Linked DNA regions of Homo sapiens. The protein of the gene in region 1 interacts with the protein of each later gene in a pairwise test. Each region holds a gene or a part of one and is shown in the gene's direction. Other genes may lie near its edges.

What was found.
Region 2: the proteins of SAP30BP (region 1) and RPS6KA6 interact in a two-hybrid assay, tested with the Homo sapiens proteins (one large-scale study listed by BioGRID and IntAct).

The regions. Positions count from the first base shown.
Region 1 is NC_000017.11:75,694,658-75,698,476, forward strand, and holds part of SAP30BP (SAP30-binding protein), read left to right. Parts: intron 1-3,819. UniProt on the Homo sapiens protein: Plays a role in transcriptional repression by promoting histone deacetylase activity, leading to deacetylation of histone H3.
Region 2 is NC_000023.11:84,114,977-84,118,795, reverse strand, and holds part of RPS6KA6 (ribosomal protein S6 kinase alpha-6), read left to right. Parts: intron 1-1,341; coding exon 1,342-1,412; intron 1,413-1,647; coding exon 1,648-1,736; intron 1,737-2,508; coding exon 2,509-2,567; intron 2,568-3,819. UniProt on the Homo sapiens protein: Constitutively active serine/threonine-protein kinase that exhibits growth-factor-independent kinase activity and that may participate in p53/TP53-dependent cell growth arrest signaling and play an inhibitory role during embryogenesis.

The DNA.
Region 1 (3,819 bases):
CGGGAGCCTTGGCCTCTTATCCCCGCCATCACCCGAGCCGACCCTGCTGTTTACTGTGAGAAACTACACGGCTGGGGATCAGAGAGCAGCCTGTCACGTGCCAACGCAGAGATGCCCTTGCTCTTGCTAGTAGTGCTGGGCAGGCAGTGGAATGTGTGTGGGCATCAGCCATCTCAGCCCCCAGTTGCTTCCAGAGCCAACTTGTCACTTTTTCTCCCTGTGCCACTTTTTGGAAATAGCTTTATTGAGGTATAATTTACATAGAGTAAGACTTGCCAATTTTACGTGTGCCATTTTATGAATTTTGACAAATGTGTATAGTTGTGTTAGCCCCACCACAATTGTGATACAGAACGCACCCATCACTCCGAAATGTTCCCTTGTGCCCCGACCGTGTTACAGGTGATTCCCTCCCTCAGCCTCAGGCAAGCTGTGATCTACACTCTCCTCACTATAGCTTTGCCTTTCTTTAGAATTTCCTATAAATCAGGATCTCCCCACCCTGGCCCTACTGACACTTAGGGCTGGATGAGTCTTTGTTGTGGGGCTGTCCTGTGCTTTGCAGGGTGTTTAGCAGTGTCCTTGGTCTCTACCCACTACGTGCCAGAGGCACTCTCCCTTCCCCAGATGTGACAGTGATCAATGTCTCCAGACATTGCCAAATGTCCCCTTGGGGCAGAATCACCCCTAGTTAAGAACCAGGGATAGAAAGGGAACTAGTGTTTTTGTCTGGCTTCTTTCACTCAGCACGGTGCTTGCAAGACTCATCCATGTAGTTGGGCATGTCCAGAGTTTCTTTTTGTAGCCAAGTAATATTTCACTGTAGGGATACACCACAGTTTGTTTACTGATTCACCCATGAGGACACAAATGGATCTTTAAGCGGCATCGTTTTGATTACTCACCATTCCTCATTGACGAGTAGCTAGTTTAGTTCCTCTTACTGAAGACGTAATTAGTTGAAGGACAGTGGCTTCCATTCATGATGCAGTGCCTGTCAGCCCCTCTACCTAAGCTTTTGTCCACTCTGGTGTCAGGACTCAGGTTGCTTACCAGGTATGGGAAGTGTGTCCATGCATGTAGACAGCCCCAGCTTTTAGAGAACAAGCAGGAGAGCAGAGAAGCCAAACCACAGGCATCTGCAGCACTGCAGCCCCTTGACAGAGCCGAGCATGCACACCCTGTCTGTGCCCTCCAGGGCCTCGCAGATGCCCACGGCTGAGCCTGGAGCAGTGGTGCTGGTGTGGCAGTGCACGTGGGTTCTCTCTGTCACTCAGGAGCTGGAGATACTCCACCGTCCCCTGGGGCCCCCCAGCTCGCTCACTCCCTGCCATCCCATAAGCCCGTCCAACTAGCTGTTCCTGCACAGATCCCTCCCTGGCAGCTGTGGGTACTCTGGGTGTTTTCTGACTTGGGCACGCACCAGGGCAAGTCACGCTGACAGCTGGCTTCTCAAGTCCTAAGTGCGGCTGCCTCTGAGAACACACCCATCAGACCCAGGCAGCAGCCACAGACCCAGCGCTGCTTCCAAGAGACTGTGGACACATCGCTTTACTGGCTTGAGGCTCTGTCTGCTTACAAGAAATGTGGGGCTCAGCTGGTCGCAGTGGCTCATGCCTGTCATCCCAGCACTTGGGGAGGCTGAGGCGGGCAGATCACGAGGTTGGGAGTTCAAAAGCAGCCTGGCCAGCGTGGTGAAACCCCATTTCTACTAAAAATCCAAAAAAAAAAAAAAAATTAGCCAGGCATGGTGGTACTTGCCTATAGTCCAAGCTACCCGGGAGGCTGAGGCAAGAGAACTGCTTGAACCTGGCAGGTGGAGGTTGCAGTGAGCCGAGATAACACCATTGCACTCCAGTCTGGGCGACATAGCGAGACTCCATCTCAATTAAAAAAAAAAAAAAGAAAAGAAACAGAAATGTGGGGTTCAAGTCTTCCACATTAGATTCATTCCAGGACTCAGAAGGGAGAGGACCACTGAAAGATTGCTTCCAAACTCTGTGTTGTACACTTCTATCTAGTTTTCCCGAATGTGTTCCTTTATTTGCCAGTTACTTCCTAGGAATTATCTTGTTTCAAGCCCTGGACTGAGGAGGGGCTCCCCTCCTCTTTTTTTTTTTTTTTTTTTGGAGACGGGGTCTGGCTTTGTCACCCAGGCTGGAGGGGCTGGAGTGCAGTGGTGCAATCTCGGCTCACTGTAAGCTCCGCCTCCTGGGTTCACACCATTCTCCTGCCTCAGCCTCCCGAGTAGCTGGGACTACAGGCGCCCACCACCACACTTGGCTAAATTTTTGTATTTTTAGTAGGGATGGGGTTTCACTGTTTTAGCCAGGATGATCTCGATCTCCTGACCTTGTGATCCGCCCGCCTCGGCCTCCCAAAGTGCTGGGATTACAGGTGTGAGCCACCGCGCCCGGCCCCTCCTCTTACACTGTACACCATGTGAGCCCCAGAGTGTGGCTGGGTTGCTGTGGCAACAGGGTCACACCCTGTTTTTCCAAAGGCTTTCCTGGCAAATGCCAAAGGGCACTCTTTGTCTCTCTGTCACAAGCACAGATAGGTTCTCTCCAGCCCAGGGAAGAAGTTAACCCTGCTTGTTTATGTGCCTAGCGCCTGCCAAGGCCCTCCTTGCTTTTGTTGTTGCTGCTTGTGAGATAGGACCAGCTCCCCCCAGCTGATTCCACTCTCCACCAGCTTCTGCAACCTCAGCCTTGGCACTTTCACCTATTCCAGGGCTGGGAAGAAGGAGGAAGTTAGAGGAGACTTGAATTCCAGCCATATCTGGGTTTCACCTTTGCTTGAGGAGTCAGGAGACCAAAGGAAGGTGCTGGGCAAAGAGAAGCACCTCGTCTCCTGCTCTTGGGCTGCACTGGCATCTGGGGCCCACAGCAGGACCTCTGATCAATGTATCACCCAGTCTCTGTCCTCTTGCCGTCACCTAAAATGGCAGATTAGTGCTCTGTTCTTGGGGCGCTTCCAGTGAGAATCCACTGACAACAGTGAAAATCAACACATGAAGTCATGTTTTTAGGATGGCCCCAGGCTCGACTCCTGTCTCAGTGTATTTGCAGTCGGCATAGGCTTATCCTGCAGCAGCTGGACTGGCAGAGTCTGGGAGCCTTGTCCCCAGCCCTCCTTGGCACTGTGTTCTTTACAGTAACTGAAACTCCAGGCAGAGATCAAAGCACCTTGTCTACTAAGCAAACATTAACCCAGCATGGGGAGAGGAGAAGGGGCTGGCTGTGCGAAGCCAGCCGGGCAGCTCAGCAGTGGGTTAGCTGGGGCCTGCACACAGTAGGTGCTCAGTAAGTGCTTGCTGAGTGTTACTGGTGTTTTGTTCATTCTTTCTCTTCATCCTGCCCCACCCTGCCCTGGCTGCTCTTTGCTCATTGTATGATCCTTTTCATGAGAGAGTGTTTTGAAGAGCGCAGACAGAATCTTAACAAATAGCGCATTGTCCCAGCGATCCAAAGCAGGACTGCAGTGCCGGGGTGGCCCAAGGCTGCGGGGAAGAGGCTGGAGAGAGCAAGGCCTGCCGGACAGTGGCAGATCTCTAAGGAAATTGTCCCCTGGGGGTTGTGGTTCTTCCCATCAGAATCAGGCCTTTTGTTCTCAGGAATGAGGTGGGCTAAGAGAGAGTTGATTGGTTTATTTTTAAAAGATCCTCAGCTGATAATGGTAAAAAGTATCATTTATACACAAGGCCATTTTGTTTACTTTGGGACCCAAAACTTAGGGAACCCTGAATTCTGTTTCTCCTGTAGCCTAGGCAGGTCAGCCTTAGACGAGACGGGTGGCCCCAAGCACCTCTGAGTTTCC
Region 2 (3,819 bases), on another chromosome or scaffold:
AACTAGAAATAGGAAGACAAAAGAGATCTTTAAAGACAATTGTAAGATTATAGAGATTTCAAAGTAAGCAGTTGTTAACCTTGGTAGCAAATTAGATGACACAGATCAAAAAGAAATGAATTGTCAAAGATAAAAATGCCTATAAAATTTGTGAGCTTTAGGGGGTTCAAAGAATGGTAAGTTAATAGAAGAGATAGCTGAAGAGGACAGCTGGTTTTGGAAGTGGGAAAAAATAATTTTTAACATGTAGCATAGGTTACTGTAGGTTAATGACTCACCACTGGGTGGTGATAAACTAGGAGGGGTAGTGGAGAGAGAATCAGAATCATTTGGAGACCTTAATACGTATATATTAACTACCCAACGTGTAGTTTCTTTGAGGGAAGATGTGAGTCCTATATACGATCCTTCCTTCATTCTCTCCCTGAAGTTCTCACCTCTACTCCTCCAGTCTTTGGTGGCGTACCATTACTTAAGATTTGGGAAGGAAAGCTGGAGTTTGAGAGAGATTAAGCCTTGAACAGCAGATTTTGGGAGACATTAAGATACAGAAGAGACTTGAATGTATAAGCTCACTTAGATTGTGAGTTCAGATAAATGAGTAGAAGACTAAGGCCAAAGCCATTATTGAATCTAAGTTTGAGATTTAAATACTGGTGATACAAAAACTTCTCTTTAATGTACCGTAATGATTTTTAGAGGTAGTCTTTTTTTATACCATTATTTAATGTTCTAGTTAGTCACATTGCAGTCAGTTCTCTTTGAGAAAATGTTTTCCTTCTTCTGTGTACAACTAAGGTGTATGTTTCTTTTTTAAAGCTATTGGCATGTGTGTGTGTGGCAGGGGGTGGTGGTGGTGGTGTGTTCTGCTGCTTCTACTTCTTTTTTGGCTCCTGTTTTGGGGGCAGTGGAGGGAATGAGAATGGTTAAATCTTTCTTGGGCATGTATGAATTTGAAATGCTTTTCTGCTTATTTTTCCTTTTCCTTTATTATTAAACATTCTCTTCAAAAGAGTATATTTGTTTTAACAGAAAATGCATTGTGTGTATTTTCAAATTGCTTTGGCTTTGAGAACATAGCCGAATTAGAACTGAGGAAGAATTGGTTGGTTTCATCTGCTACAGGTCACCATCAGTTGAGCTATATATATAGAGAGAGAGAGTGGGATACCAGAAGTATATTTCTTTAAGTGACCTAGTTTTCTGGTCCCATTTTGATCTACTATCATGTAGATCTTACAATTTGATGATTATATAGAAGTCTCAGTTTTTTTCTAGAGAATCTTATTATATATTCTAAGGTGTTCTAATTGTGTGGTGTGTTTTGTTTGTTTGTTTTAGTTTGAAATGCTTACTGGTACTCTGCCATTTCAAGGTAAAGACAGAAATGAGACCATGAATATGATATTAAAGTAAGTGTAAACAGTATGTTTTTCTTTTGGGAAAAAAATCTCTTGCTTTCAGTTTTGAAAAAATTATTGCGGTTTTAAAATAATACAAGAGTACCTTTTTCTCACTGTCTTGTTCCCTTCTACCATATACAGGACTGTACCCTTGTAAAAGCACTTTTAAAAGTTCTTTTTGAGATTTTTCAAATCAAAAATGTGGCTAAATTTAAGTGAAACTTTCTAAAATCCTCTGTTTCAGAGCAAAACTTGGAATGCCTCAATTTCTTAGTGCTGAAGCACAAAGTCTTCTAAGGATGTTATTCAAAAGGAATCCAGCAAATAGATTGGGTATTGCTTATTTTCTTAGCTTTTATAGAAGTAACTGCATGTTTTGGGAGGATAATTAAATCTTTATGTTTTCTTGTTTGATTTGAGCACATTACTTCTATACGTAGAATTTTTCATTTTGTGTGTGCATTTCAGACAAAGTAAACTCTGTTATGTCCATGATTTAAAACTGAAGTAGTCTAGTTAATGAAAGCTTCTGTTCAACCTATTATTATGTATATATTATGGGTTACTTCTTTTGAAATAATAAACAGATTCTCCCTTGTACAGGTAATCTTTTATATATTTGAAGATAGATATTTTGCCCCCCCCCAATATTCTTCAAAGTAAATATTATGTTTCTGTAACTACTTTTTTGACCCCTTTCTGGTAGCCTTTCCCTGTATCCAGATGCGATCCTATTATTTATGCCCTTGTGTGAAAATTTCAGTGTCACTTTATTCCTTTGTACCTTTCAATTTGGCATATAAATATGAGGTCATAAGATAAATTAGGAATGAAAAAATATGTATTTAAGTTTAAGTATTATGTTTAATACTATTTGATTTGATTTGGGAGACACTTTATTGTAGTTCAATATGAATGTTAGTTATTTTTTATCACAGTAAAATGAAAGGACCAGCTAATAAAATGCCAGATAAGAAATCATGTATTTTTCTTTTCAAGGAATGTATGAAATATGTGTATTCCTGTTTACAGATAGCAGTCTGGAAGCCAGGGAGCAAGACTAAAAAAAATCATAAAAATAAAATATCATTTCTTTTTTTTATAGGATCAGAAGGAGTTGAAGAAATCAAAAGACATCTGTTTTTTGCAAATATTGACTGGGATGTAAGTTAAGTAGAAAGCTTGTTATTGAATAACTTCATATGACCAACACAGGATATTAAAGATTTATTGCTTTTAATCTAAATAACAAATCAGTGGAATATTTACATACATATTTATTTTTCTTTTTCTTAAAAAAATAATTTAGATCTGGGGGTGCATTTGTGGGTTTTTTCCGTGGATGTATTGCATAATGGTGGGTTTGGATTTCTAATGTACCCATCAACCAAACAGTGACCAGTAGGTAATTTTTCAACCCTCAATTCCCTTTTAACTTCTCCCCTTTTGGAGTCCTCGGTGTCTATTATTTCCATCTGTATGTCCATGTGTATCCATTGTGTAGCTCCCACTTATAAGTGAGAACATGGGATATTTGATTTTCTGAGTTATTTCACATAGGATAATAATCTCCACCTCCATCCATGTTGCTGCAAAGATAATGATTTTATTCTTTCTTATGGCTGCATAGTATTCCATGGTGTCTATATACCTATTTTCTTTATCCAATTAACCATTGATGGACACTTAGATTGATTCCATGACTTTGCTATTGTGAACAGTGCTGTGATAGACATACAAGTGCAGGTGTCCTTTTTATATAATGATTTATTTTCCTTTAGGTACATACCTATTAGTGGGATTGCTGGGTCAAATTTTTTTGATTATTAGTTCTTTGAGAAATCTTCATATGGTTTTTCATAAAGGTTGTACTAATTTACATTCCCATTAACAGTGTATAAGTGTACCTGTTTTCTCCCACATCCATGCCAACATCTGTTATTTTCTAACTTTTTAATAAAAGCCCTCCTGACTGATATAAAATCATATTTCATTGTGGTTTTAATTTGCATTTTTCTGATGATTAGTGATATTGAGCATTTTTCCATGTTTGTTGGCTGCTTGTATGTCTTCTTTTGTAAAATGCGTGTTCATATCCTTTGCCCACCTTTTAATAGGTTTGTTTGTTTGTTTGTTTACCTGTTGAGTTGTTTGAGTACCTTGCAGATCTCGATATTAGTCTTTTGTCAGAGGCATAGTTTGCAAATATTTTATCCCATTCTGTAGGTCATCTTTTTACTCTATTGATTATTTATTTGGCTGTGCAGGAAATTAATTAAGTCCAATTTGTCTACTTTTGTTTTTGTTGCATTTGCTTTTGGGATCTTAGTCATAAATTCTTTGTATAGATCAATGTCCAGAAGAGTTTTGCCTAGGTTTTCTTCTAGGACCTTTGTAGTTTCACATCTTATGTTTA